Homo sapiens: one gene and its partners. The protein of the gene in region 3 purifies or fractionates together with the protein of the main gene of each other region. This does not show direct contact. Each region holds a gene or a part of one and is shown on either strand. Other genes may lie near its edges. The genes, in order: ZNF74, PPARGC1B, DNAJC10, MTMR3, LRP1B, ITPRID2 and FBLN5.

Region 1 (2,403 bases), on a different chromosome or scaffold from region 3:
AGGCCTTCAGCTGCCACTCGTCCCTCATCGTGCACCAGCGCATCCACACCGGTGAGAAGCCCTACAAGTGCAGCGAGTGCGGCAGAGCCTTCAGCCAGAACCACTGTCTCATTAAACATCAGAAAATCCACTCCGGGGAGAAGTCGTTTAAGTGTGAGAAATGTGGGGAGATGTTCAACTGGAGCTCGCACCTCACTGAGCACCAGAGGCTGCACAGCGAGGGGAAGCCCTTGGCCATCCAGTTCAACAAACACCTGCTCAGCACATACTACGTGCCTGGCAGCCTGCTGGGTGCAGGGGATGCTGGACTGAGGGACGTGGATCCCATCGACGCGCTGGATGTGGCAAAGCTCTTGTGCGTGGTTCCCCCCAGAGCTGGCAGGAATTTCTCCCTGGGGAGCAAACCTCGAAACTAACATGATGTGCTTTGGTGTCAGTAGCTGCTTTCTGAGCTACTCAACAAGGAAAGCACCCTGGTCCTCCCTGGCTCCTAGATCCAGACCACCTTCCTCCAGGTGTGGGAGCCTTGCCTTATCACCCCCATCAGGTCTGCATGCCAGGGTGCCTCCTCTAGTTAAAGTCAGTCACCTCCCCAGAAGGGCCACACTCCAGGAGGAGTGTTGAGAGTCATTTGAGGTAGTCTTGCCACCTGTTTTCCTTGATGGGCCTGGAAGTTGTTGACAAGGGGAAAGATCTTTCTTGCCAATAAAAAGAAGGGATATCGTTGGGTGCCATGGCTCACACCTGTAATCTTAACACTGTGGGAGGCCAAGGCAAGGGGATCACTTGAGCCCAGGAGTCTAGGACCAGCCTGGACAACATGGTGAGACCTCGTCTCTACAAAAAATGCAAAAATTAGCCAGATGTGGCGGCATGTCCCTGTGGTCCCAGCTACTCAGGAGGCTGAGGTGGGAGGATCATTTGAGCCTAGGAGGTCAAGGCTGCAGTGAGCCATGATTCACAGCACTGCACTGCAGCCTGGGTGACAAAGCAAGACCCTGTGTGAAATTAAAAGGAGGTATATCAACTGTTGTATCCTCGGACGGGCTCCTGACACGGCTTTAATCAGGAGTTTCCTCCATAAACTATTATTTTCAGAATAATAATAAAACAAGAATTATGACTAGCATCACTTTCCAGTGAACATTATTATATTGCTAGAGAGGAGAATAATCTTGGGTGGTGGGCATTTGGAAAAAGTGAATTTCCTGGACTTAACTCATGTAAATAGCTCTACTGCAGAGCTGTGTGTTTAGTGACAGTGCAGTCAGGGGCATTCCCACAGCTGTCACAGCACGGCCCAGCATCATTGTAGCCAGATCCTAACATGCCAACATCACCTCTTGCCATTTAGCCCCTAGTGAGAAATTGGGAGCTACCAGGCAGGTGCCCAGTGCATTCAGGGAAGATGGGCACAACATCAGGATGGGTGTGTCTGGAAGCTCCTCTTCACTGACCAGGGCTGGGCAGGGCCACCCTGGGCTGGTGAGGCTGCCCTGCAGGGCTTCTCACTATGTAGCACCAGTCACCAGCCCAGGTCACAGAAGAAGCCCCTCCCAGCACCCACTGGAGAGGGGAAGCTGAAGCCCAGGGAGACGGGCTCCATGGTGGTCCCACATGGAGCTGTTTTGCAAACCCTGGAAAAGGCGGCTCTCCCTGTCCCAACACTCTTCAGAGACAGGAAGACAGAGTTAATCTTGAATGAATGTTATTTCTACTTAGTCCTAAGCAAGAATAAGCTGCCCTCTTGGTGATCATACTTTATACGGAGTGCTATCGTTTATGAAATGCTTTCAGTATGCTTTTTAAATTATGCAGGCAAAATAACCACACTTCAGAAAATGTGGACTTCTGAAAAATAAAATCCCCATAATTCTTAATAAAACTGCCTTTTGCACTTTGATACATTACCCTCTGCTTTGTTCATGTAGAACTTTGCATTATTTTCAACACAGTGTATCTATAGTTTTTATCTTTTTTCCCTCTTTAGCTTTGTAGCAGATTTTTTTTTCAAGCATCTAAACTGTCCTCGTTATACTTCTTTTTTTTTTAAATTATACTGTAAGTTCTAGGGTACGTATGCACAACGTGCAGGTTAGTTACATATGTATACATGTGTCATGTTGGTGTGCTGCACCCAGTAACTCGTCATTTAACATTAGGTATATCTCCAAATGCTATCCCTCCCGCCTCCCCCCACCCCACAACAGGCCCTGGTGTGTGATGTTCCCCTTCCTGTGTCCATTGTTCAATTCCAACCTATGAGTGAGAACATGCGATATTTGGTTTTTTGTCCTTGCGATAGTGTGCTGAGAATGATGGTTTCCAGCTTCATCCATGTCCTTGTTATACTTCTAAACAGAGGCACAGTGTTCTCTCTGGTCTCTTAGATACTCTTTTGTT
Region 2 (4,561 bases), on a different chromosome or scaffold from region 3:
GATTAAGGAAAGAAATTGGATGTACAACAGCAAAGAAAGTGAATGTCATGGTTTCCCTGGCCAAAGAAGAGGGACCCTGTCATCCTTACCAATGGGGAAGAAGAAAACTAGTGCATGTGCAATATGTCAAAGTTAGTCCCCTAGTCCCTGAGGGGTTTTTACACACAGATGGGCTCCAGGTCTGCTCGTCAAGTTTGGAGGTACCGGGTAAATGGAGGGGAGCTGCAGAGTTGGAAACCCACATGCATGGATGTGTCCTTGGCCCAGAACCACCATGGGATGGGGGAGGCCCTGAGCCGGCTACAAGACACCCAGGAAGTAGGCAAAGGCTGACTTTGCATTAAACAATAAAAGCACTTTGAGAAAACCCCAACACTTCAGCCTGGGTCCGTGTTTCTACACTGGAAAATACGAGTCTCCTTTGGCTGTGTGAAGTGATCTTCTAGAGACTGGGACAGGGAGTTTGGGAATGGGGCTGCTGTCAGGTAGGAGAGAGCAGAGATGCCTTTGGAGATGTCAGCAGCAGGAGAGCCAGTGCTGGGGCCAACCCTTTGCTGGCCTTTTGTTGGAAGCCCTTGAAACAGGGAGCCATGGGTTTAGATCTTGGTACCTACCTTTACAGAAAGATGAAAACAGCCCAGCTGAGTGAAATGAGTTTGTAGAGTAAGTCACTTAACTGTAAGCCATCTCAGAATCAGAAACCCTAATGTTTCTTACTTGCTATGTGACCTTGGGCCCCTGTTTCCTCATCTACCAAATGAGAATGTTGAATATGAGCATTAAAGTCCCTTTCACCTCTGAGAGGCTCAGATCCCCAACCAGGAGCATTGGGAATCCATCACTCCTCCTTGAAACTGATTCCATTCTCTGACTTGACCCAGCTCCTGTTCAGGGTGAGGGTTCTCTGCAAGAACCAACCAGCAGTAGGTTCAATCCCACTGTGTCCTGGCTGAGTTGCCTTATCCAAGAAGACCAGCTCCCCGGGACAGATCTAAGCCATAGTTTCTAGTGGGGACAGTAAGGAATTAAACCCCCAACTTGGCTAGGTAACGATGTCAAATCTCACATTAACCTTGTCTTTGTCCCCACTGGATAGCTGTTAATCCGAATGTTGTGACCATTTGGCTGTTTCTCTCTTGTTCTCAGACAATACTAGCAATACACTTTTTTTTTTTTTTTTTAAAGAAAAACAGCTTAGGAGCTTTTCACACATTTCTTTCAAATGATTGTAAAACATATGGGGCAACAGGAGGCATTGATCGCGCTGCATATGTTTAGGGCAGCTTTTGTTTTTTGTTTCTTTAATGGTATAGCAGCAGTGACTGAGCCTTCGTGATTCCTGGGGACAGCTTTTCAGATACTCTGTTTCATCAGTATGCTTTGCACATCCGGAAGGAGTACAAAAATCCAACTGCCCAAATTTGGGGCTTGGAAAATAGGTTTTATAGGTGGTCGGTCCCTGGGCTGTGCAACAACTCCTCAAAGAGGGGTTTATATAACTAGAACCCCCCTGGGCTGTATTTTTGGTCAAAGGAGTCTCCAAGGCGGCTTACAAAAGCTTCCTTTTTCACTTGACCACCCTTGCTCATTGGTTACTTGTGAAGGGAATTGGTCAGTTTCCACCTCAGCACTTTGCCTTATCAACATGCGGTCGCCATCTAGTGGCCAAAGGTTGTCTCCACCAGCTACCCAGATGGAAGGCAAATAAATCCTTTCGGCCACCCTGCTGTCCATCGTGAACTTTGGGAATGAAATATAATGGCCTGAACGAACTGCCTTTGTGTTCAGAGATCAGTGCAACACTAGGGTCAGAAGACTCCAGAAGCAGCCACTTAGTAGACTCTCACGCAGAACTGAGAAATGCACTAGCTGTCCTGTGGGCAGAAGAGACAGGAGTGGACCAGGAGAGGTCCAGGTGCCCGGGAAGGGTTTACTGTAACTGCAATACTGGCAGCCCAGCTGCTGACCTTGTTAAGTAAACCTTTGCTGGGTGGTCCGAATTCTGCCCTCAAGGCAAGATAAGAAGTTGGGTGTAAGGATTTTGTGGGGGGCCTGGCCATGATCTTTGATATGATCCCCGAATAGCCAAATAGTTTTTTTTGTTCAATTTTTTGTTTCTGTATTTTGTATTTTTAAAATCTTGTCAAATGTTTTTGTGTTAGGAATAAAAAGTCATAAACTATTCCCAACTTTGTTTCTTGAGGGATGTTCTGATTCCAATGGAAACAGGTGGGAAATCTCAAGGGGAGCGTGGACAAGGTGGTATGTGCAGCAGGGGAATAGACTGCTTGGATTTCCAAATGGTTTCTGGGGAAGATGACCATCCAGAAGTCCAGCTTAGTGCAGTCTGCTCTGGAATTCACACCCACCCCCTCGCCTCCTTGTGCCATGTTGTTAGCATTGGCTTGGAGCATCTGCTTCTTCCAGAGGCAGCTGCTAATGTTGAAACCAACACGAGCCCTCTCCCCAACCCCAGGTTTCTAAAGAAGGTGTCTGTAGCCAGCCTTAATCAACTGGGCAAGGTGGTCCCTATGGTCCTTTCCAGCATTTCCAAATCTTGGACTCAAATTATTTTCTCTTGGTGTGACCACACAGCCTAGAGAATTCTGAGCAATAGGAGCCAGGGCTTTCCCTGACTCTGCGACAGGGTCAAACCAAGGAATGGCTAAACCTGTGAGGTTTTGTCATCCCCGGGGGTACTACTGTAGGGGGCATTATTTATTAGGAAGCTTAACAAGGTAACTACGGCCTGAGTGCGTGAGTGTAAGGCTGTGTTTGTGGTGGGGGTGTGTGTGTGTGTATCTGTGCACACATACACACGTCTGTGCCTGTGTGTGTGTGTTTGTGTGTGTGTGTGTGTGTGGAATTACATTGATGCATTTATTGAGAAAGGTGCAAGAATTTCACCTACACAGAGGGACACATCTGCTTTGTTATTTATAATAGAAAGCTAAATTTTAATTTTTTAAAGGACACTGCTAATGATTGAGAATCAAGTTTTTAGTTTTGCTATTTTTTTTAATTGGTAGAGGATTTTTATATATTTTTTCCATTTTGTTGGGTTGTGTCCTTATTTATATAAATACTTTATCCGTAAGAGGCAAGGAGGAAACCTTCTTTGCTTTTACATATTGTGGTTGTCATCGTCCCTATTTTATTTCTGGTGTGATTTCTCTGTCTTACCTTCTAAATGAGAAAATGTTTTCTTGTATTTGTACATTGTCAGATTCTATAGTTTCCTAGATAATTTAACCAAATTGCTCTATGTATTATTATTCTGTGAGTATAAAGTTCTATTTTAATGTCTGTAAATACTTCAGAACTGGCTTCTTTTCTCAAACTCCCACTGTGGGGTTATTGTTTACATCACAGAAACTGTAGAATCTCTATGCTCATGTACTGTAAATAGTGAAGTGATCTGCTTATAAATAAACTTAACAAATACACTATGGAGATTAAAAACAAAATACCACCCACAGCTTTGCCCATGTGTGTTTTTCCTTGTTGGTCCTGGGAGCTCATTGAGGGACACTCTGACCACTAAATGGGGAAGAGATTTCAGTTTTCAGCGTCACCTTCTCAGATAAGACCCCGGATGATGTCTGCTCCTCACCTCACCACACTTCTCCCTCCTTCAGAGCACTTTTCACAGTTCATAATATCCATTCGTGCCAGGCACAGGGGCTGAGGTGGGGGATCACTTGAGCCCAGGAGTTCAAGGCCAGCCTGGGCAACATAGTGAGACCCCCATCTCTGAAAAAGTAAAGTAAATAAAATATAATAAATAAATAAAATAACCATTCAGACTCATCTCACATAACAGCTGTTCCATGAACGACTTTTTGCCCTGACTTTTATAAAGCTATACCACTTTCTGAACAAAGACTTCCTTGTTTTGGTATATCAACTTTCACATAAGCACATTGAATAAATGCACTGTAGGAGGTATTTTGGCATTGTGGTTCCAGGCAAAACACTCATCAATTTGTAATTACAAAATGGTTTCTGGTCAGAGGATCTCATAGAGAGCAGGCCTGCATTGTGTGCGGTAATTGAATGAGCTCAGAACATTTTCCTTTGTGTACTTCCAGCAAGTAGGGTGAGGAAGTGGCATCTTCCAAGACTCTCAGTTGCGTGCCTGTGTGTTATTTCCTCACGTCTCAAAGGGGTTAGCCTGTATTTTGCCCTAAAGCTGTTTTTTGTGCTTTAACTTTATTTTTAAATGCCAGACACCCATAAGCCCCAAAGGGTTGAAACACTGGCAAAGAGAATTATATATAAACAAGAACAGGCTGGGCGCGGTGGCTCGCATCTGTAATCCCAGCACTTTGGGAGGCTGAGGCGGGCGGATCACCTGAGGTTAGGAGTTCGAGACTAGCCTGGCCAACGTGGTGAAACCCCATCTCTACTAACAATACAAAAATTAGCCCGGCGTGGTGAGGGGCGCCTGTAATCCCAGCTACTCGGGAGGCTGAGGCAGGAGAATCGCTTGAACCCGGGAGGCGGAGGTTGCAGTGAGCCAAGGTCGTGGCAACAGAGCCTGGGCAACAGAGCAAGACTC
Region 3 (4,848 bases):
ACAGTAGCTGTCAGAATTGATTAAACCTACTTAACCTATGCTGCATATAATAGAAGAGCTTAGAAGGCATTTGCTTGTTGACTTTCTAGAGAGCCAGAAATGATAACATCTGCTTAGCAGAAAAATGCCTGGGAAAGCTTCACTAGAGGGTCCTTCTCTATCACAACAATGCTCCTGCTCATTCCTCTCATCAAGCAAGGTTAATTATTTATGAATTATCTCTGAAGTTTTGTGGCTGCAATTTATCTTGAACTACCATTTGGGGTTCTATATGAACTATTAACAGTTCTTAAGCTTTTCTGCATAGTGACACATCTGAAAAAGTGTGAACCCATATACAATATAACTATCAGTGAAGTCTCATTCTAGGTAGACTCATGGATTAGTAAGCTTGCAAGTTTTGTTCAGTTCCTCTATCTGTAATTCCGATGTTTTCTGAACCATTGGTACACAAAACACTTACTGATATATTAGGAGATGAGAGACAATAAAAACCACACAGGAACAGCTATAGGTTTATATAACTCACACGAGAGTTATGATTCTACCAGCTTGTGACATGAGCATTAATTCTATTAACAATCCAAATGAATCAAATTGTCTTATTTGCAGAACACAGGAAAGATGTATTTTCTATTCACTTAGAACATGTTCAAGTGTTCACCTAGAAGGCTTTTAACAAAGTAACACATTGAACAGCTATTTTGTATGTGAAGCTCACCAGCATGATGTAGAAAATAAGATTAAAATGCCACCCTTGGCCAGATGTGGTGGCTCATGCCTGTAATCCTGGCACTTTGGGAGGCCAACGTGGGTGGATCGCCTGAGGTCAGGAGTTCGAGATCAGCCTGGCCAACATGGTGAAATCCTGTCTCTACTAAAAATACAAATACAAAAATTAACTGGGTGTGGTAGCGGGCACCTGTAATCCCAGCTATTCAGAAGGCTGAGGCAGGAGAATCGCTTGAACCCAGGGGGCAGAGGTTGCAGTGAGCCAAGATCGTGCCACTGCACACTGGTCTGGGTGACAAAGCAAGACTCCGTCTCAAAAAAAAAAAAAAAAAAAAGCCACCCTTGCTTAGAAGGAACAAACTGTATAAAATCAAGTAGCTGTAATAAATTTTTAACGATAATATATGAAAAACATATAGATTTATATGTATTTTTTGCGACTGGTACGCTATTTTAGTTTTCTTTTTTTTTGTGGTGCCATCATGGCTCACTGCAATATCAGCCTCCCAGATTCACGCGATTCTTGTGCGTCAGCCTCCCAAGTAGCTGGGATTACAGGTGCGTGCCACCAGGCACACCTAATTTTTGTATTTTTAGTAGAGAGGGTTTTCCCCATGTTGGCCAGGCTGGTTTCTAACTCCTGATCTCAAGCGATCTGCCTGCCTTGGCCTCCCAAAGTGCTGGGATTATACAGGTGTGAGCCACCGCGCCTGGCTGTATTTTAGTTTTCTAAATTAAATACAATTGTGATAGAGCAATATAAAATTGAAATTTGATTTGAAGTTTAATTTATTGCTCTGAAATAGAAAAAATAAACCTATTATTACTGTACAAAGGATGAAAGTATAAGAATCTATTCTGGTATACAATTTTCTAAAATGCAATGGAAAATGCAGAACTGTATTTTTATGGCCATTTTCACACAAAGTTGCCAATCAAATTAAATCTACTTCCAAAATAACTATACCTTTATCCAAAACTCTAAAATCAAAAAGCTCTGAGAAGTTTTGCTGTAAGTTTGCAGCAAGCTCACTTGGCATCCAAACCTGATCTGAACTGATTTTTAAATTTCTTTTATTTAGTATATATACTTACACATTTTGCTACATAAATATTAATGTTTTTATTATGGTACACTTCCCCACATTCTGCTAGAAATATTTAAGATACAGTATATTACATTATTACTGTTCGAAACTCCAAAAGATTTCTAAATTTCAAACATATATATCCCCTAGAGTTTTAGATGAGATCGAACTTGTATTAGTTTTATAAAACCTTAAGCCCACAAACTTACCAAATTCTCTTCTTTCCAATGTTATGATTTCAGGATCATCATCATAAATACCTAATTTTAAAAGTATATAAAAATTATAAAATCAAAACTTCACCATATAAATTGCAACATAAAAATAGATTACTCGTTTTAATCATCAAAAAAATCAAACTACTATATTATATCTCAAACTTAGAGAATATGCAACATCCTAAGTGAAAAAAAAGTAAATAATACTATCAGTACATTTAGGGTGATCTAAAGATATTAGAATTCTGATATGGACTCTCATAGATGTGTATGCGGTAGTTCGTAATATTCACATAATTTTACCTCCATATAAAATTTATATTATGGTTTTAAAAATAATTACAGATTCAGGAAGGTGCAAAAATATAGACTCTTGTATACTTTTTACTCACCTTCCTCTAATGGTGACATGTTATGTAGCTATATAGCACAATATCGAAAACCAGGAAATTGAGAGTGGTACACTGTTAACTAGACTACAGACCTCATTTGATTTTCAGATTATATGGTTTTTAACACATGGTATCATGTTAGAATATCTTCTGCTAAAAAGCTTAGAGTATTTGCAGAGGCAGACACAAATATTTAGTAAATATACATTTTTTAGGCTTTGTGGGATGTATGGCTTCTATCACAACTTCTCAACTCTGCTCTTGAAGTGTGAAAGAAGTCACATATATTATGTAAACAAATTAAAGTAATTCCATTCCAATAAAACTTATTTATAAAAGCAAATGGCAAGCCAGATTTGGCCTATGAAATGCAGTCTGCTAACTCTTGATATAGACTATCAAGGTGTAGAGAATATACTTGAAAATACTATTTTGAAAAAAAATCATATTTACTAAAAGCAAATCCTCCAGATATAAATTTAAAATACTTCATTTAGTCTAATACAGAAGCATATTCAGTTCTTAGCCTGCATTTGAGGTTAATTAATGACTAGGAGAAACACTGGGTCTCTGAACACACCTTCCTCCCTTGATACCTGTGTGTTTACAATCTCTCTTCCTTAGTTCCTTTACTTTGTTTCCTCCTTCCACCTTATTTTTTCCTCCATGTTTAAGAAAAAAAACACCTTTCGTCCTTCTCATATGGAACCTTTATTGATAATGTTTCAAGGTATTGACCTTAATGTCAACCGAAGGCCAAAACACCTTAAAAATCAGTAAGGGTTCCATATGAGAAGGACGGCATTTCTATTGAAGAGATCATTACTAAACTTGAAGTTTCGCCTTTCTTGGACAATATGATGCTCTAAAATATATTGAAAGAAATTAATATTATTCAATACTAAAAAATACTGAAAGAAATATTTAGCTACCCCTAATGCAAACATATAGTCATACATCACTTACTAATGGGACACATTCTGAGAAATGTGTTGTTAGGGAATTTTGTTGTTGCAAAAACATCACAGAGTGTACTTACACAAACCTAGATAGTATAGCTTACTACACACCTAGTCTACAAATCTGTACAGCATGTTACTGCTGAATACCATAGGCAACTGTAACACAATGCTAAGTATCTTTGTATTTAAATATAGAAAAGGTACAGTAAAAATATGGTATTATAATTTCATGGGACCAATGTCCTACATACAATCCATTGTTAAGTGAAATGTCATTATGCAGTCCATGAATGCATATTTTTTATTAAATAGCAATCCTTATTTTAAAAGTATTTAACAAGATTTAACCAATACAACTTCATATCTGTACAGATCATCTCTGTATACCAACTGACATTCCTTTTAAATTTCACTCCCACAGCAAATTAAAAGGAGCTAATCAAAGTGACGCATCTTAAATATATAAGCTAAGTGGTGAAACAGAATTCACTTTTCTTTTACTCAGATAAAACACATTTCATAAGTAATATCGTATCACCTTACCAAAATCATAACGATAATAGTTCCAGCTTTCATACTGGCCACCTTGATTATCCTCAAGTCCCTTTTCTCCATATTTGTCATACTTTTTCCGTAGATCTTCATCTTTGAGTACTTCATATGCTCTATTTATTTTTAAAAAATCGCCATGTGCATTTGGGTTATTCTGTTAAAAAATATTAGATATAATACAATTATTTCAGATACACAATCCAAGTTTCTTCAAAACATATATGTAGGTTTAATTAATCTAGTAACTTCTGGGAGACCATATACCAACATAAGGAGGGGTAATACAACATGACATGAGTTACCATGGGTTGAAATGAAGTATTTTTTAAGAAACTATAATCTTCAAAAAAAAAAAAAAAAAAGTAAGAAAAGTAATGAAATAATTGACTCTTCAAAAGGTTGACAGACGTTATCAGACCATGAGTTATTCTTCCTAAAAAATGCAGCTGAAAATAATAAGCCTGTTGAAACTCTTAATTTCATAAATATTTTTTACTCCTATAACAATTATAAATCAATACATTTGTAGGTTATTTTTCTATTTGAGGTAAAATCAACTTAATTAAAAAAGGATGTGCCCCAATCTATCAGCTAATTACATAAAAGCCAGTATCAGAAAACACCCCAAAATCGATCCCAGTACTTTGGGAGACTGAGGAGGGTGGATCATTTGAGGTCAGGAGATCGAGACCAGCCTGGCCAACATGGTGAAGCCCCGTTTCTACTAAAAACACAAAAACTAGCTGGGCAGTAGTGACGCACGCCTGTAATCCCAGCTACTCAGGAGGGTGAGGCAGGGGAATTGCTTAAGCCTGTGATGCAGAAGTTGCAGGAAGCCGCTGGCGTCACTGCACTCCAGTCTGGGCAAGAGAGTGAGACCCTATCTCAAAAAAAAAAAAAAAAA
Region 4 (4,848 bases), on a different chromosome or scaffold from region 3:
TAAACAAATATTTATACCCATCCTGTGGCAGATGCTGCCAGTAGAAATGGAGAGAAGGGACTGGTTTCTAGCACTGTTGAGGAGTTAGCTCTGATGGGGGTTTGTGGCTGGAAATGGGGGTTCCAGAGGGGGAGGTTCTCAAGGAGGTGCTTTCCTCTCTGGGTGGACTTGACTCAGGCAGCTCAAGTACAAGTGTGAGCCTGGCTCTCAAGTGGTCAGCGTACATTAAAGGCGGGCACATCCAGTGACTTTCAGTTCAGAGTGACTTGGCTTTTCCTTCATGCTAATGATAGTTTCTCATGTTCCCAGAGAGTCCTTCTAAGAAAAGGAGGGCATCCCGAAAGCACTCAGCTTTAACTTAGTGGCAGGCAGGGTTGGATTGACAGGCCCACTGGAGCAGCTGACATACAGAATTCTCATTCCATTTTGGTCACTTCCCTCTCACTCACTTTCTGGAACCCTGAGGGCCTGTTTTTCTACTCCAGAGTCACTGCACACAACCTGTGTATCCCTCTCCCAGCTGAGCCCAGGCCCACACTGCACTTCTTCACCCCAGTTCTTGATGGCTGATGCATCTGCAGATTCGGCAGTCCTAGCACTCGGCCCCACCCAGAGTCCTCAGTTCTCCCTTCTTCACCAGGCCTTTTCTTCTTTTGGGAGGAGACCAGGTTCATTCTGTTCAGCTGTGTTTGTTTGCCAACAGACTTCAATCCCCGACTCGGAAAGCAATCTGGATCAGAACTGTTTGTCTCGCTGCAGCACAGAGATTTTCTCTGAAGCCAGCTGGGAGCAGGTGGATAAACAGGACACAGAGGTACAGGCTCAGCCCCTGCTCTGAGTGCCATCAATTTAACTGTTTTGTGGTTCTTCTCCACCCCCATTCCCACCCCATACCCCTGGCCAAGGAAGCACCTCCCAGCACAGCTAGCCCTGAGCCTCTGGCACCTTAGCTCCTGGGAACCCACATGAAGCCTAGGATTTCTGAGCCAGGGAGACTCAGCAAGCTGGCCCTCCCTCTTCATTGCCTCTATGAACTGGAGCCTTGCCAGCTCTCACAGTGACCCAGGGTGCTGCTGCCTGCTACTTTATCTCAGGGGAGATTGGAGTCCCCTCCAGGGAAACGATTTGGACGCCTTTCTTGTACTGTTGACATCAGATCTGCTGGGCTGGTGCCACTGGAGCTGATGTGGTCCTTGTGACTCTTGCTGCCCCCAGCATGGCTCTGCTGGCTCCAGCTGGATGGCCCATCTCCTGTCAGTAACCTGGTCCCATCTGTTTTGCAGATGACCCGTTGGCTTCCTGACCACCTGGCCGCCCACTGCTATGCGTGCGACAGTGCCTTCTGGCTTGCCAGCAGGAAGCACCACTGCAGGTACCATTGAGGGGCTGTGGTAGGGTGGGCTGTGTGTGGAGGTTGAGGGTCGGCCCACAGAGCCTGCAGAGTAGAGGGTTGTGGGTATCTCAGTGTTCTGTCTGAGGCAGAGCCATGGTCTCATCTTCCTGTGCCTCTGAAATTGGTGTTTGCAAAACTGCATTTGGCATCTTTGTTCAAATTCAGAGTAATCACTGTTAAATTCTGAAATGTGCAAATGGTAGCATTTTGTTGTTTCCCAGATTGGTGAAACAACAGCCACCACTGAAACCACCATTTCTTATTCTCAGCATAACATTTCTTCCCATTCAACATGGCTACTATGAGCAAAACCAGTTTTCCTGCGATGGGGAGGGAACTATTTTCCTATTCCTTTCCTGCTCCCTGACCCCACACTTGTTTTCCCTTGTGCCATTGGTGAGCAGCTGTAGCTTGGGAAGTAGTAGAGACAGCTGAGGACAGTCTTCCAATCATTAAGGTTCCTGACTTCTTTTTCCTTCTGGGTTAGGGTAGTGAGTTTACTAGGGACCCTTTGCCCCAGCTAGGGTGTTGACTGTCTGGTGGATGTTCAGTGTTCTTAGAAGAGGAAGTTTATCTGAATCATGCCATAGCTCACCCACACGAGTGGGTGGATTGAAAATGGAACAGTCTCTTTGCCTAGTAATGATGCTTCTAGGACATGTATCTCCCCACCCTGCACCCCAAGCCCAGATATCTTTGGTTGGCTTCTCTTCTGAGCTCTTTCTCCCCTCCTTGCAGGGACACTGACCGTGTTGATCAAACGTGGTGAGCATTTGCAACAACCTGCCTGTGATGTCTGCACATCTACAATAACTTCTCCACACTAACTCTTATCATTTCCCCCTCTCTGCACTTACTAGGGTGAAGCCTGGGGCCTTGGGTGCACAGGCAGATAGGTGGGCTTGAGGGGATTCAAAGCAGCTGAGGAGAGGCCATCGAGGGTGGGTCAGGCTGCAGCCATGTGCTCCCCTCCTGATCACAGAGGTCAGCCAGGCCGTCTTGCTTGTGACGAGAAGTAGTGCTTCTTGTCTTCTGGTCTTGTAGGGGAACCAGTTGGGTTTTCAGAGCTATTTATTTTGGGTCAGTGATTCATTGAGATGCCAGAATAATGCTAGTAATTTCCAGGTCAAACAGCATCACTGCTTCTTTTTTCCCTTTTTTTTTTTTTTTTAAGAGACCAGGACTGAACAGAGGTGATCTTTCCAGAGAATTGTTTTAGCTTGGAAGACTTCAAGGAAAGATTCCACTTAGTGTCTTTCAGGGTCCTCTGAAAGAAGTCAGATAGAAAAGCATCAGCCAGGTGCGGTGGCTTACGCCTATAATCCTAGCACTTTGGGAGGCCGAGGATGGCAGATCACCTGAGGTCAGGAGTTCAAGACCAGCCCGACCAACATTGTGTAACTCCATCTTTACTAAAAATACAAAATTAGCTGGGCATGGTGGTGCACGCCTGTAATCCCAGCTCCTTGGGAGGCTGAGGCAGGAGAAGAGAATCTCTTGAACCTGGGAGGCGGAGGTTGCAGTGAGCCAAGATCGCACCATTGCACTCCAGCCTGGGCAATAAGAGCAAAACTCCCATCTCGAAAAAGTAAAGAAAAGAAAGAAAAGCATCAAATTCATGTCAGGCTTTTGAGCTGAACTCCAGCAGGAATGTTAAAGAAGTGTAGATGTTCAGAAATTTTTCTGTGTAACTACAGGTTTTTGCTGACTCACGCTTTTTAGAACTAGTTACGAAGTACAGCATTCTAGAAGATGAATTTTGTGTTTTTCTTTTCTGTCTTTCCATTGCCCCATGTCCCACCTTTTCCTTTTGTGGTATTCTTTTGTTCCCAACTGGTCTTAGTCTTCTCTCCTCCTGTGCCTAAGTGATCCTTAATCCAGCAGTGGGTTTGCATTCCGAACAGCATAAATGAAAAGTTAGAAGGCTAAGAAGCTGCCCTCCCCCAGTCTTTGGTGGGCTGTGTCAGGCTCCTTGGAGCTTCTTGTTCTTAGGCTCATTAGGATTGATTTGTACCTCAGGGCCCAGCAAAAGTAGAGTTGTAAGGTGGGCAGAAACTCATTCTTTGCCAATTCCCTTTCCTGTTGGCTCTGATGGGCATCCATCTGGGGGTGCAGAACTGTGCTGCACAGATGCCTCAGAACCCAGCTTTCAGGGGAGGAGGAGAGGGATGCCTGGGGCCTGAGTGCATTCTGGCCTTCTGGTAGAACTCTGGTTTTCCCTGGAGATGCATGGGTCGGGGAGTGAGCCATAATTGACTGACACCTATCTAATAAGGGGGTGTGTGTGCACGTGTGTTCATCCTGTGTTCTTGTCCTCCCACCTCTCCTCTTTCACCCTCTGAGCATGCATCACAGGCTACTTGTCCCTGGCTTTGCATGCTGCCAGCAGAGCAGTCCAAAATGGCAGCAGTCTATCTGCCATGTTGCTGCCTTTGATCCTCTGGAGAAGTGGCCGTTGGGCAAGGCTCCTTACTCCCCAGTGAGGCTGGGTAGTTGTTTCTCTCGTTTGAGGAGCCTGGCCTCTGTGATCACAAGCTACACAGAGGGCATTGCCTAGGTGGGTGTGGCCACTGGGTTTTCCTGGATCAGGACTAACCCATTGTTAGGACCATGTATTCTTACAGATCTCTCTTGAGCAGCATTCTTTTGTATACCTGAGCAGCATTCTTTTGAGTCAGTGGTGAGGCAGCCAAGAATCCTTGGCCCCAAAGTGAAAATGACATGTGACTCTGCTAGGTAGGGACACCCTCCCTACCCAGCTTGTTCCTGGGCTAGAGAGATGAAAGGGTTTGATCTCAAGGAGCTCCAGCACATGCAAATTACACACGGCAAAGTTTGTCTTTTGAAGTTGGTTTCCCTCCGCATACCTGCTGGCCAAAACTAACATTGTTCTGTTTCTTCTCATCTCAAGGAATTGTGGGAACGTATTCTGCTCCAGTTGTTGTAACCAGAAGGTTCCAGTTCCCAGCCAGCAGCTCTTTGAACCCAGTCGAGTATGCAAGTCTTGCTATAGCAGCCTACATCCCACAAGCTCCAGCATTGACCTTGAACTGGATAAGCCCATTGCTGCCACTTCCAACTGAAGCTCAGTGACCTGGGTGGGCAGTGGCCAAGCTGCTGTTCCTATGACAGGCCCACTCAACCTGGGCAGACCGAGAGGCCCGTGCACTTTGGAATGGGAGCGTGGAACCACCTGTACAGAGTGACAGATTTGGGATGCACCACTGGATTGTAGATTGATTTTTCTTTCCTGTCCCCCTACTCCCTCCCTACCTTTTCCATCCTCCTCCTCTGCCTTCAAAAAAGGAAACTTTCCCTTGGTTGTCTTAATTTTTTTTTTTTTTGATGGAAGACCAAGGGTTGCCAGGCCCACTGTAACTGCCGAGCTGCCTGCTGTCACGTGACACTGAGGGATGGCTTGTTTCTTCCGGGTGGGAGGATGGTGGTCAGAGCCA
Region 5 (4,848 bases), about 42 Mb from region 3:
TTTGTAGAACACTCATTTCTGTTATTCTCAAAGAGGGTAAAATTTCTAGTTCAATGGTATCTTATAATCAAAAGGATTGAAAGTACTTAATGCAGTTAATAAAATTGATTTGACTATGGGGGTAACCACAGAACAGTTTGAAGAGTTTAAAAGAGATAAATATGTACTAGTTTTATCTTCAAATTCATGCCAATTCTTACTTGGACTATTCTTTATATTTTCTGAATAAGACTTTTGTGAGAGAAATGTCTACCTATGAAGCAAAGATCCAATATTAATATTGGATCTTTAATAATATTAATATTGGATATTTTAAGTTGTTTTAAGTTGTTAAAGCTAACATGAACACACTGTAAATGGTGTAAGGCTAAAGGGTATTTTTATGTTATTTTTATGAATTAACATGATATGTATCGATGAAAAGTGATTCTATAATATTAGATCAGAAACTAAAATTTTCTGTTTATATACAGGCCAGGTACATAGGGGGAGGACCCAGTGCTTTCAAGCTTCCACACACAGCGCCGCCCATCTACCTAAACTCTGATTTGAAAGGACCACTAACTGCTGGGGTGAGAGAAGAATATTCGTTATTTCATGTCCGTTTCATCACAGAACCCTCACAATCAAAGACTAATTACTAGACTTAGAGGCTTGTTTTTAATTAAGTTTTTAATTAACAAGAGATTTCAAAATAGCATTTAAATTGGGGGCTTATGTTATGTGTCCTGTCTATGCAAGATTACATCTAAAACATTATTTTAGGCAAGCCATTAAGTAGAAATATCTCTTCTACTGGATTTGGAAATGTTATTGTCCCTTTACAGTGAACATGAGTATTTGTTATTCTTAGCAAAGAAGCTCTAGCCAGAAATTAAAACTGAATAAACTTTTGATTTTATTCATTTCCTCTCATAGTGGTTTATTTAATATATACAAATTTGACGTGCAGTTAAATAGACTATACTTTAAAATGTGTCATCATATTGAGAAATTACAGACGGTCTAACAAAACCACTCTCAAAAACATGTTTCAATTAAGTAACTGGTGTTTAGAGAAAGCTGTTCTGTCTAAAGTTACATAGTTCATTTTAAGCAGAAGAGGAATAAAAATATGCATTATCAAGATTCCTAGGGATGAGAATTCTCTCCCTTATCGTCTTTCCCATCAACTGTTTTCATCCTCATTTTCTATCATGTTTGTCTCAATTGCATGGCTCAAAGATTATAATGTTTCCTTGTTGTAACTAAGATTTAATGTACTGTTTTTGGAAAGACGAAACAAAAAATAAGGAAAACAAACACTAGGCAAAATTTTCTTGGGATAAACTGCAATTTGTTAAATAGTGAACATTGTATGTATATGTTTTCCAACTCAAAGAGGTCAGCTGCTGCATGCCTCTAATTCTACTTCAAAATGCTATGTTTGTGAAACTTAAGATGACTGTGTACATCACAATTCTTTGAAAAAGTCCAAAAATATTTCTAATAAGTACACACAGGTTGTTTGAGGCAAAAATATTGCTTTAAAAATCTGATACACTAATGCATTTCTTTACATTTTTGTTTACTTGTTTTTAAGTTCATGTTGAAAAATTATAAGCACCAAACAAATGTTTTTCTGAAAACACATCTTACTTGCCACGGATAGGCTTGTAATAGCAATAAGGGGGACAACACAAAAACTGAAAACATGACAATTTAGTTTCACATTTTATGCTTTTATAATAAAGTCTCAGTGAACATAGCTTTTACAAAGATTTTTTTCTGGCTTTTTGTATATGGCAAAGCTCCTCTTAGGTTCACAAGTTACTTGCAAAATGTAAAATTATGTTTCATTTAATACCATGCTTGAGTTGAGTAAAGTCTGTAAATGTAACATGTAAATAACCTTTAAATCATTACTATTTAATAAATTAAATGTATTGCATATAAATATTGTTACGATTAGGAGATGGACATTCTAGGAAGTAAATAATTAATGTGGCCAAGACCAGTAATAAAATTATATTTATTTTTTTTCTCCTTCAGCCAACAAATTACTCCAATCCGGTATATGCAAAATTATATATGGATGGGCAAAACTGTCGAAACTCCTTAGGAAGTGTTGATGAAAGGAAAGAACTGCTTCCAAAGAAAATAGAAATTGGTATAAGAGAGACAGTGGCATAATCAGTGATATCTTTTATATGCTGTATAAATGTATAAAATATAAGGATTACTTTTGTATGTTCCAACAGTATTATACTTGTTTTGGCATCAGCATTACCTCTTTCTTTATCTTTTTCCTGGTTAATTGTTTTCTGAGTTTTTTGGGTTTTATTTTTTGCTGATGACTATTGATTGACCATTTGTATGGTATTTTTATGAAAAAGAACTGCACTACAGTACAATTTACAACAATGCTGCTGATATGACACACCTTTGAATTTGTTAAAATTAAAAACAACGTATTCCTTTGTAGTGTGAATATGAGCAATCTATTTTATATGAACTTTTTTGGTTGTACTTAATCAACGAGGAGAATCTCTGCACTTTTCCATTATACGGTTTGAAGGCTGTAATACAGTGTCATATTATTTTTCTGTTTAAATTGATGGAAAAATGATTGAATGGTCAACTCTCTTCTTTGTGCCCATAAAGATCGATTCAGACTCTGCTGAAAATATATAGCTCTCACAAGTTCAGCATCACCTGCTTTGAAATTAGCCTTAGATTGCCAACCAATAGATGAGAATTTTGAGGAAAAAAATTAAAAATATGTAAAATTAATAATTTGCATGAACACAGATGACTACATTTTCCAAAACTTAGTGGACTCTATGTGATGTACTAAATGTATACACCTTGTAAGCAATAGTTATATTTAGGTGGTAGAACATAGCAAAAATATAACCGAAAGTTGGCCGACTGCACTTGCTATGGAATAAGACCTTTTATTCTCCCTCAGTCTCGAGATAAATAGCCAGCCTAGAGCACAACAGGGCATTGGGTACTTGCATCTTAGGTATTTCTTCCCAGTCACATCCATTTTGTGGAAGATTAACCCAACCCCTTACACTACACTGAACACTAAAGAATAATATATAAGCACACAAATTGGTGACAGAATTTCAATTACGTGAACGCATCCTCTTTGCTAGGTCAAAAAACAAAGGGCAAAGCAGACATTTTAGTATACAGAGTGATTGGCAAATATTTTCAAGATTTAATATGAGCAACCCATTATTTGCCCTATCCAAAATATATTCAAGGGCCTTCCAAGTTGTAGAAGAACAATGATCTTCCCATAATCAAAAGTGGAGAGTCGAAATGCTGTGCCAGTTGCTCTGGTATTCAGGTTTCTCTGGGTTTTACAGAACGCATGGACCCCATTCACGTTTGGTTTGTTTATCTTCAAATTTGAGTTGAAACGAGTGCGATTTATTTAAGTTGTATATAAAAATAAAAGGATAGCATTTTTATACAAATATCTTTAAAGGCACAAAAGATTTATTCACAAGTTTTGGAGGGCTTTTTGTTCCTCTGATAGACATGACTGACTTTTAGCTGTCATAATGTATTAACCTAACAGATGAAATATGTTAAATATGTGGTTGCTCTTTATCCCTTTGTACAAGCATTAAAAAAACTGCTGTTTTATAAGAAGACTTTTTGTTGTACTATGTGCATGCATACTACCTATTTCTAAACTTTGCCATATTGAGGCCTTTATAAACTATTGATTTATGTAATACTAGTGCAATTTTGCTTGAACAATGTTATGCATATCATAAACTTTTTCAGGTTCTTGTTTAAGTACATTTTTTAAATTGAACAGTATTTTTCATTTTGGTTATAATATAGTCATTTTGCCTATGTTTCTACAATGAAGTGTTAAATACTTTATAAAAAATTGTTGACTGACTTATTTAAATGAAATTCTACATATTTAAGAGCTTGTGTTGGGTAGTTTTTAAAAATAAGAAAATTCCTTTATGTAGCTTAAATATTCTGAGAGAACTGTTTTAGTAAACACGGCATTTTTATATCCTTAGAACATAATACACTCCAGGGGAAAACTGATTTCATTGTATCATCTTTCAATGCACAGTAGAGAAGGCATTTTCTGTCTTCATGGAGTAGAAACACTCCCCTTACTTTATCCTTTTCCCTGCCTTCCTGTGCCTGTCAGAGTCTCCATATTGCAATAGAAAGAAAGGTTCTATACACAGTAGCATGACAACCATGCTAAACAAGCCAAAGCTCTTCCTGTCCCTTTCTATTCCCCAAAACTGTACTTTATGGAAAATCAGATTTCCATTAGACGCTATTTCCACATTATTTTGTTAGAATGGTTATTTGCTATACCTACTTTTAGCATCAGACTAGAGATGGAAAATATAGGTGCGTCTGATTTACTTAACATTGAGTTATATTATTTGAAGGGGCCTTCTGATGTCAGAGCTGTGTAAATGCAACTGAAAATATTTCAAAGAACCCACAGAGTGGTGTGATATTAATACAGTTAACATTAGTATAAATATCTAGCAAATAATATATGATATGCAACCTACTGCCAGTTGGGACCTGACATTGATGACCTACTCTCACTAGGGCCCTAGTGAAAACAATAGTCAACAAAGCTTAGAATGTGTTTTTTTTAACCCTGGGGCCCTGCAGCTACTTTAGATGATAAATATATATTTTCAACTACTTAAAGTTAATTTAATCTGTTTCCATAGCTCTATTGTGTTCTATTCCAATTTTCTATTGCAAAAATTTTTATAAATGCTAGAAATTCAAGTTTATAATTCTCTTTCAAAGTCACAATTCTTTATAAATGCCATCAAAAAATGCTTTCTAAAC
Region 6 (4,848 bases), 820 kb from region 3:
AATAGCAGAGCTAATAGAATTTTATTAGAAATCATGCTGGTGTTTATTCCAGAAAGCATTAGATTTTAAAAAGTGTGTTGTGCTATTTAAAAGTTTTTACAAGTTATGTAATGTTTTCCAGTAGATTTATAATAAAGCTTTCTTGTACAAAAAATAAGAATTTTTAATTATTTTACTGGTGTTTTAAAAGCTATTTTATAGCTCATTGATCAAATTGCATAGATTATTCATAGCTGTATAGCTCAGTTATTAATGTGTACTTTTTTAAAAAAAACAAGGATTTTTAAAAAGTCTTTAAAGCTTACAAGTTGGTGAATAGTGAATTTATACATTGAATTTAATATTCTTGATTTTTTCCTGTTTCAAATGCATCTGTAAAGTAAATTACTTATTTAGAACCTTCTAACATTTAAAACTCTGGAATATGCAAATATATTAGTTCTTATTATTTCTGTTCATATATTTTCAAGCTCTATAAAGAGCTTAAACTTACTGATTCCCACTCAGTACAATTGAACATGTTGTCAATCCGTTATTAAAATGCACTTTGCACTTTTGATATTTGCCTTGGTAGTTTGATAATATTGAATGATTTTATTGGAAACCAGAACCTAAAAAGGAGTCTCATGAAAGAGTAAATCTATTATGTTGTTTTACTGAAAATTATTTCAAGGCTATTTCCATTCATTAAGTAAATAATTACTGAGTGCTGTGAGTTAGGCACCTTTCTGGTGGATGTACAAAGAAACACAAAATTGTCATAACTTTGTAGATCAGAAATGAAAAGCAATTCATGTGTGCTGAAATAGATGTGTTTATAATTAATTTTATTCTTTGTATTTGTCTATAAATTTAACTTTAAACATTAACACTTACCTGTTTAGAACTTTAAGCTAAAGTTCTATCATAAAGTTGAAAGGCAATTTTTAAAAGAAAGTTTATATTGAAATAAGTAGAAATTTTCATGTTATATGTGTGAAAAATCAGTTATAACCTTAAAAAAAATTCACATTAGAAACTGACATATACTATTGCCACACTTAATGTTAAATCATGTTTTCCTCTTAAGATATTATTCATTAATAGCTTTTAAATTTAATAATTAGTACCACATATATGGTACATATCTTCCTCATTACTTATTTCTAACCTGTTAAAGAAATTTAACTGGTTCCCTATACGTTTTTTTATTTTAAGCACTCAAGTGAGAGTAGTTAGTTTCATGTTGCCACAACACAAAAACACCCTTCAAAAGCTCCTGGCCCTGTTCTTATCTATCTGTATATCACTTTTAATAATGCAGATTTAATGGACCAAGATAAGTGTTTAATATATTTGGCATTTAATTCTAATATTGTAGGTAATTAGATTTCTTGATAATTGTATCATAGTAGTTATAGTCCTACTAACAATTGTGCTCTACGTTTATTGTTTTTACCTGTAGCCAACCACCTCCATGAAAGTGATGCTCAAATTGAAAACTGGTATGTAGCTGTTTTGTTCTATTTCTTTTAAAAAATGAAGACCTTTAATGAAAATAAAGTTATAAAGTTTTATATAATCTGATTTTGTTCGTAGCAATAATATCTTGGCCAAAGAGAGAAGATTACAGTTTCATCAGAAAGGGAGAAGTATGAATTCCACTGGATCTGGGAAAAGTAGTGGGACAGTTTCAAGGTAACTTATTCTGAAATTGTGTTGGAATTACATTGTGCTATAGATGACCTACTCTTATCATTTTTTCAATCTTGGATTTGACCTTGATCATATGAAATCAGAAAGAACACAAAAAGAGCGTTTCCTGTACCAGCACAACTGATAGGAGCTTTTTGTTTTGTTTTGTTTTGTTTTGTTTTACTTTGAGATTAAATAAAATGCAATAAATAGGCTTATACTGCTGCTGGAACCCATAAATGAGTATTTTGAGCCCTCTCAACAGCCTGAAAGAGGAACTCCATAGCGGAGTAACTTGTAGTTGTAGAGAACCAAAATTCATTGTTAAGGACTTGAGTTAACTCTGACACAAAAATCAGAATAAATTTTTCTAAGTTACAGCTTGATATTTAAGCATACTTTTTTTCAACACATTAAACCAAAGATCTTTCAAATATATAGTATAGCCAGGCCCAGTGGCTGACACCGGTAATCCCAGTGCTTTGGAGTGTCAAAGTGGGTGGATTACTTGAGCTTAGGAATTCAAGACCAGCCTGAGCAATATGGGGAAACGGCGAAACCCTGTCTTTACAAAAAATGCAAAAATTAGCTGGGTATGGTGGGATCCACCTGTAGTCACAACCACTTGGAAGGCTGAAGTGGTACCCAGGAGGTTGAGGCTGCAGTGAGCTATAATTGTGCCACTCCATTTCAACTTGGCTGACAGAGTGAGACGCTGTCTCAAAAAAGCCAAACAGAAAAATACCCTTGCCCCTCTCCCGCCCGCACATATAGTATATTAAAATACATCAGTGCATGTGCCTATGGAATCCAGTTTAAACTGTTATCCAAATTATAATATTAGAATCTGAGCATTTTGTCTGAAACAAATTGAAATGTCTCTCTGTTGAAGTTCCATCTCTAACTTTCCTGTTTTCTTCAGTGAGTCTTAGAAAGCTTGGATTATCACTGGTATGAGAGAGAAGGGATACTAAATATTTAATTCCCAATAGGATTAGAGTAGTTACCTTTGTGTAACCCACACTCTCTGTACCTTACTCCTCCTACTTCCTGAGTGGAAGTGGTTGGAGAGAAGTTGAAAGTAAGCTCCTCCCTCGCTTCTCTGAAATCAGCTTGTTATCTTTATTGTTCCTCCTAGGACAATTGCCACTCCTAGGACAAGGATAACAGAAAAGCTCAAATTTCACAAAATGTCCCTCAGTTCCTTTTAATTTCTGCTTTAATCTGTTCATTCCTTATTCTTCATCATCTGTCTTCTACTTGTTTTAGCTGCTTTACAGGGAATCTCTTAAAATGACAAAACAAATAAGGTGAGGAATCACGTAGGGAATCTCTGACTGTGTTCGTTGGGGTTAGCTCTTTTCTGCAACTCTAGCAACTTGAGACAATGAACCCTTTATAAGGGCTATTTATTCCCCAGTACACATGTGTAAACATGGTAAAATAAATAATGGTTTCCAGAGCAGAAGCTGAGAAAAAAGATTTTATCACAGGAAATCAGTAATATGTATTCATTTATAATGTGGTGTGGACTATCAATTTATTTTATATTTTCATGTTTCCTTTTTTGCCCCCTTTTTTTGTAGTGTTTCAGAATTGTTGGAACTTTATGAGGAAGATCCTGAAGAAATTCTTTATAATCTTGGATTTGGACGTGATGAACCAGATATTGCTTCTAAAATTCCTTCCAGATTTTTTAATTCATCATCCTTTGCCAAAGGGATAGATATTAAAGTATTTTTGAGTGCTCAGATGCAACGGATGGAAGTAGAAAACCCAAATTATGCTTTAACAAGTAAGATTTTTAAGTGTTAGGCATATTATTTTCTTAAATTATAGCATCTACAGCAAGATGGTCTTATTTTAAAGCCTTAATTTTCAGGAATAGCACTGGAAAGTAAAGAGATTGATTAACGCAAAAGCCATTTTTACATGTTAAAATTAAGCTATTTTATTACTCCATTTATAGTGGTTAATTTGCCTATTTTTCCCCTCCTCCCCAATTCCTGACTTAAGTGCTACCATAACTTATTTGCAGAACCTTATTGTTGTCTACAGATTGCTTTTATTCAAGAAGAAAAGAAGTAGGAGAGGAGCCTTGTTAATCTTAAATGAAGTCAGTCTGTTTCAGGAACTAGTCTGGCTAATTTGATCAGTTTCACTCATATCTTTGCTTGTTTTCTTTCTGTTAGCCAAAGATTCCAAAAATAGGATTCCAATCCTGCATTGTTCATGGATCAGTTTTAAGAGATCAATAAATCCCTCACCCTGCAAATTAGGTATAAAATATATGCTTACATGCATTTTCTTAGGAGAATTTTGAAAGAGTCTTAATGGAGTTCAAGACTTCAGAATAGAATCACAACTGTAGATTCAATAGCTAGTTCTTTCTGTTTTATTCAATGTTGCCATTATGCTTTGTGCTTATTTCTGATTTTTTAAAAATACAAATTCTAGTGCTTAGAGTAAAAATCTTGCTCCTTCCCACCCAGTGAATGTAGAGAAGGTTTAAGTGTTAGATGAGGAAAAAATAGGGTTTTATAATCTTTGTGATCTAAGTGTAGTTTTTGGAATTCTAAACAATAATATGCATTTAATATATGTGTATGTATATATATAAATATAAACATATCATTAATATTGTTTCTTTTGGTAGGCCGTTTTCGTCAAATTGAAGTGCTTACTACTGTGGCCAATGCGTTTTCTTCTTTATATTCTCAAGTCTCCGGGACGCCCCTGCAGAGAATTGGAAGTATGTCCTCAGTGACCTCTAACAAGGAGACAGACCCACCTCCACCTTTAACTCGAAGTAACACTGCAAATCGTTTAATGAAAACACTCTCAAAACTGAATTTATGTGTTGATAAAACAGAGAAAGGAGAAAGTAGTAGTCCTTCTCCATCAGCTGAAAAAGGAAAGATTCTAAATGTTTCAGTGATTGAAGAAAGTGGCAATAAAAACGATCAAAAGTCTCAAAAAATTATGAAGAAGAAAGAGTCATCTTCTATGTTGGCTACAGTTAAAGAAGAAGTCTCTGGTAGTTCAGCAGCTGTTACGGAGAATGCTGATAGTGATAGAATTTCTGATGAAGCAAATAGTAATTTTAACCAAGGAACTGAAAATGAACAAAGTAAAGAAACTCAAAGTCATGAGAGTAAACTGGGTGAGGAATCT
Region 7 (3,500 bases), on a different chromosome or scaffold from region 3:
GGATTTCATGGGGGCAAATAACTCATATTCGACACTCTGAAGGCGAGGTAGCACCTAAAGAAAGAGTCATTGCCCTTAAAAGCAGTCTTATTCATTCCCAGAAAGGGGATGAACAGGGAGCATGCCACATTAGGCTCAGCAGATATGATTCCTCTTGCTCTTCACAACTACAGCATTAAAAACCCTGAAACCTGTCTGCTAAAAATGGGAGCTATGAAGCAATGGTACAGGGAGTTTTTTTTTAAATAAAGTTTTTCTAAAAACACAGAGATGGGGTCTTGAGGGCGGTCTCAAAATCCTGGGCTCAAGAAATCCTTCCTCCTCAGCCTCCCAAAGTGCTGGGATTACATGCATGAGCCACTGCGCCTGGCCTGGTGTGGGGAGTTTAGAAAGTAGTTCTAAGTATAAAATAATTACAAGGAAAAATTTTAGAAGAACAAATAGGGGTTATAATACAGGTATTGGTATTTTGGAGGCCTTTCTTTTTTGCTCCATTTCCCCAACTTTCTGTGTTGCAGCAATAAGACTTTTATGGTGTGAAATGACCTTGCCTGTTTCTCCTCTCTCCTTCCCTGCAGGCACAGTGCACGAATGGCTTTGACCTGGATCGCCAGTCAGGACAGTGTTTAGGTATGAGCCACTGTGGATCCTTCATTGGGGTGGAGGCATTCAGCCCAGTTGCAGTGCTATTTATTTCTTTCTCTGTTGTTCAATGATTAGCCATGCCCATGGGAGAATACAGTGACATGGAATGACTGAAGTCAGTGGTGCCCTTTTATTGATCACCTTCTTTGTGCCTGGCCTTGAGCTAAGCACTGAGAGGGGTGAAAGAATTGATCTCTGTTCTCTTGAAGGTTTCTATTGGATTGGTGTTTCCTAGGGCTGCCGTAACAAATTACCACCAACTTAGTGGCTTAAACAACACCAGTGTATGATTTTACAGTTCAGTAGGTCAGAAGTTTGACTTGAGTCTCCACCAGAATAGAATTAAGGTGTCAGTAGGGCTGTGTGCTCTTCTGGAGGCTCTAAGGGAGACTTTTATTCCCTTCTGGTTGTTGGCAGAATTGAGTTTCTTGTGGTTGTAGGACTGAGGTTCTGTTTCCTTGCTGACTGTCAGTGGAGGGCAATTCCTACCTTTTAGAAGCCTCCTGCTTTCCTTGGCTGGTGGCTCCTCCCTCCATCCTCAAAGCCAACACAGCGAGTCAAGCGTTTCTCACTTTGAATCTCTTCTTTTTCTGTTGTAGCATCTCTCTGACCAATCAGCCTCTTCTTCTTCTACTTTTAAGAACTCCTGTGAATATATCGGGCCCACCCAGAAAATCCAGGATAACCTCCCCATCTCAAGGTCAGCTGCTTAGTAAGCTTAATTCCAGCTGCTACCTTAATTCCCCTTTGCCGTGTAACCCAACCTATTCACAGGTTCTGAGGACTAGGAAGAGATTTTGGAGTGTTTGTGGGGGTCATTCTCTTAGCATGCCATCTTTTGCAATGGACTCTGCAAAAGAAGAGGAGAAAGTAATACCTTATGTCCAGGGTCAATAAAGCATCGATGGGGCCGGGTGCGGTGGCTCACGCCTGTAATCCCAGCACTTTGGGAGGCCGAGGCGAGTGCATCACCTGAGGGCAGGAGTGCGAGACCAGCCTGGCCAACATGGTGAAACCCTGTCTCTACTAAAAATACAAAAAAATTAGCCAGGAGTAGTGGCATGTGCTTGTAGCCCCAGCTACTCAGGAAGCTGAGGCAGGAGAATGGTTTGAACCTGGGAGGCAGAGGTTGCAATGAGCTGAGATCGCACCACTGTACTCCAGCCTGGGCAACAGAGAGAGACTCTGTCTCAAAAAAAAAAAAAAAAAAAATTAATGGAGGTCACATTTGAATTGGGTATTGAAAGATGAATAGGATCCTAAGAAATGCCATTCCAGGTAGAAGGAACAGCATTAACAAGGACCAGGTGTGGAAAGGACACTCAGAGCATGGAATAGTTTGTTGTTGACAGAGCATAGGGCATATGAACGGAAGAAGACAGCCCTACTTGCCCCCATCTTAGGGGAAGTATTTAGCTTTTAAATTATATTTAATTTAAGCAAAATCATTTGTCTTCTCTGAGCTAACGTCACCATGCTCCAGAGGGGAGATAGATGGTTTGAAAAATCGATGAACAGTGAGGAATAAAACCCTGTCCTGGGAAATCTGGGCTTACGTTTTGATTTTAAAATAAGGTGTTTTGATTTGAAGATTTGATGAGGAATCAAGAGTAGAGCAGTGGCCTTCTTTTCTGGCCCCCCATTTCAGCGATGGCTTCAGGCTTCAAGCTGGAGAACAGGCTGTTGCATTCTGCACCTTGCCATTGCTTTTACCTCTGGTAGGATTGGGTGTGAGTTTCTCAGATGAGATGCTGGGGGTGAGTTGTCGGGTGCAGGCATGTGGTCTCCAGTCTCTAGCCCCGCACAGAGCAGACTCCAAGGCTGCTGACATGGCTCGGTATACGGGATCATGTCTACTGCTCGCTGGAGCCACAGTTCAGGCCTCCCCTGTCTGTACCCTAGCAAGGCTGATTTTCTAGAGAGTCCACCTCTCCCCTTCCAGACATAACAAGCAGAGCCCAGCCTGGCTAGAAATTGTTGGCTGGCACAGAGCTGACTTGAAAGCAAAGCTCTGCTTTCTTAACAAGCAACTAGCTGTCAGTCAAGCCTTTTCTTTTTTTTCTTTTTTCTTTTTTTTGTTTTTGTTTTTGTTTTGAGATGGAGTTTCCCTCTCGTCGCCTAGGCTGGAGTGCAATGGCGCAATCTCAGCTCACTGCAACCTCTGCCTCCCGGGTTCAAGCGATTCTTCTGCCTCAGCCTCCCAAGTAGCTGGAATTACAGGCATGTGCCACCACACCCATCTAATTTTTGGTATTTAGTAGAGATGGGATTTCCCCATGTTGGGAGGCTGGTCTTGAACTCCTGACCTCAGGTGATCCACCTGCCTCGGCCTCCCAAAGTGCTGGGATTACAGGCATGAGCCACTGTGCCCAGCCTAAGCCTTGTCTTTTCCTGATGCAAGAGACTCTTTCTCCCCTGACCACTGTTACTTGAAGTAGAAGTGGAGACAATTGTTAGGCCCATCCCAGTATTTTCAGAGTATAGTATGTGCACACGAGGATCCTTGATGTATTAGATGGTACATCTGCAGATAAACACTCTTTATTTTAATAGTGTATATTTATTTTTACTGTTACCTTCTACTTATGCTAGTTTTCACTTGCTGTAGTCATGTAAGACTTTAAATATACATTTATTTGGGCTTCAAATATGGGCTTACTTAAAGAAAGAGTATGTGCAAATGATAGTACAGGTTTGTTTTAGTCCGTTCTCTGTTGCTTATACCTAAATACCTAAAACTGGGTAATTTATAAAGAAGAGGAATTTATTTCTTACAATTGTGGAAGCTGAGAAGTCCAAGGTTGAGGATCTCCATCTGGTGAGGGCCTTCTTGCTGGTGGGGGCTCTCTGCAGAG

What was found.
Region 1: the proteins of DNAJC10 (region 3) and ZNF74 purify together in Homo sapiens (co-immunoprecipitation; one large-scale study listed by IntAct). This does not show direct contact.
Region 2: the proteins of DNAJC10 (region 3) and PPARGC1B purify together in Homo sapiens (affinity purification with mass spectrometry; 2 studies listed by BioGRID and IntAct, with this or other methods). This does not show direct contact.
Region 4: the proteins of DNAJC10 (region 3) and MTMR3 purify together in Homo sapiens (affinity purification with mass spectrometry; 2 studies listed by BioGRID and IntAct, with this or other methods). This does not show direct contact.
Region 5: the proteins of DNAJC10 (region 3) and LRP1B purify together in Homo sapiens (affinity purification with mass spectrometry; 2 studies listed by BioGRID and IntAct, with this or other methods). This does not show direct contact.
Region 6: the proteins of DNAJC10 (region 3) and ITPRID2 purify together in Homo sapiens (affinity purification with mass spectrometry; 2 studies listed by BioGRID and IntAct, with this or other methods). This does not show direct contact.
Region 7: the proteins of DNAJC10 (region 3) and FBLN5 purify together in Homo sapiens (affinity purification with mass spectrometry; 2 studies listed by BioGRID and IntAct, with this or other methods). This does not show direct contact.

What each region holds. Positions count from the first base shown.
Region 1 is NC_000022.11:20,406,553-20,408,955, forward strand, and holds the end of ZNF74 (zinc finger protein 74), read left to right. Parts: coding exon 1-416; 3' UTR 417-1,903; downstream 1,904-2,403. UniProt on the Homo sapiens protein: May play a role in RNA metabolism.
Region 2 is NC_000005.10:149,851,545-149,856,105, forward strand, and holds the end of PPARGC1B (peroxisome proliferator-activated receptor gamma coactivator 1-beta), read left to right. Parts: 3' UTR 1-3,478; downstream 3,479-4,561. UniProt on the Homo sapiens protein: Plays a role of stimulator of transcription factors and nuclear receptors activities. Activates transcriptional activity of estrogen receptor alpha, nuclear respiratory factor 1 (NRF1) and glucocorticoid receptor in the presence of glucocorticoids.
Region 3 is NC_000002.12:182,719,257-182,724,104, reverse strand, and holds part of DNAJC10 (dnaJ homolog subfamily C member 10 isoform 1 precursor), read right to left. Parts: intron 4,099-4,848; coding exon 3,936-4,098; intron 2,081-3,935; coding exon 2,030-2,080; intron 1-2,029. UniProt on the Homo sapiens protein: Endoplasmic reticulum disulfide reductase involved both in the correct folding of proteins and degradation of misfolded proteins.
Region 4 is NC_000022.11:30,021,326-30,026,173, forward strand, and holds part of MTMR3 (phosphatidylinositol-3,5-bisphosphate 3-phosphatase MTMR3), read left to right. Parts: intron 1-703; coding exon 704-814; intron 815-1,283; coding exon 1,284-1,372; intron 1,373-2,131; coding exon of another isoform or gene 2,132-2,158; intron 2,159-4,304; coding exon 4,305-4,476; 3' UTR 4,477-4,848. UniProt on the Homo sapiens protein: Lipid phosphatase that specifically dephosphorylates the D-3 position of phosphatidylinositol 3-phosphate and phosphatidylinositol 3,5-bisphosphate, generating phosphatidylinositol and phosphatidylinositol 5-phosphate.
Region 5 is NC_000002.12:140,230,510-140,235,357, reverse strand, and holds the end of LRP1B (low-density lipoprotein receptor-related protein 1B precursor), read left to right. Parts: intron 1-473; coding exon 474-572; intron 573-2,031; coding exon 2,032-2,172; 3' UTR 2,173-3,935; downstream 3,936-4,848. UniProt on the Homo sapiens protein: Potential cell surface proteins that bind and internalize ligands in the process of receptor-mediated endocytosis.
Region 6 is NC_000002.12:181,897,436-181,902,283, forward strand, and holds part of ITPRID2 (protein ITPRID2), read left to right. Parts: intron 1-1,444; coding exon 1,445-1,484; intron 1,485-1,578; coding exon 1,579-1,677; intron 1,678-3,260; coding exon 3,261-3,469; intron 3,470-4,330; coding exon 4,331-4,848.
Region 7 is NC_000014.9:91,937,695-91,941,194, reverse strand, and holds part of FBLN5 (fibulin-5 isoform 1 precursor), read left to right. Parts: intron 1-578; coding exon 579-630; intron 631-1,244; exon of another isoform or gene 1,245-1,345; intron 1,346-2,742; coding exon of another isoform or gene 2,743-2,865; intron 2,866-3,500. UniProt on the Homo sapiens protein: Essential for elastic fiber formation, is involved in the assembly of continuous elastin (ELN) polymer and promotes the interaction of microfibrils and ELN. Stabilizes and organizes elastic fibers in the skin, lung and vasculature.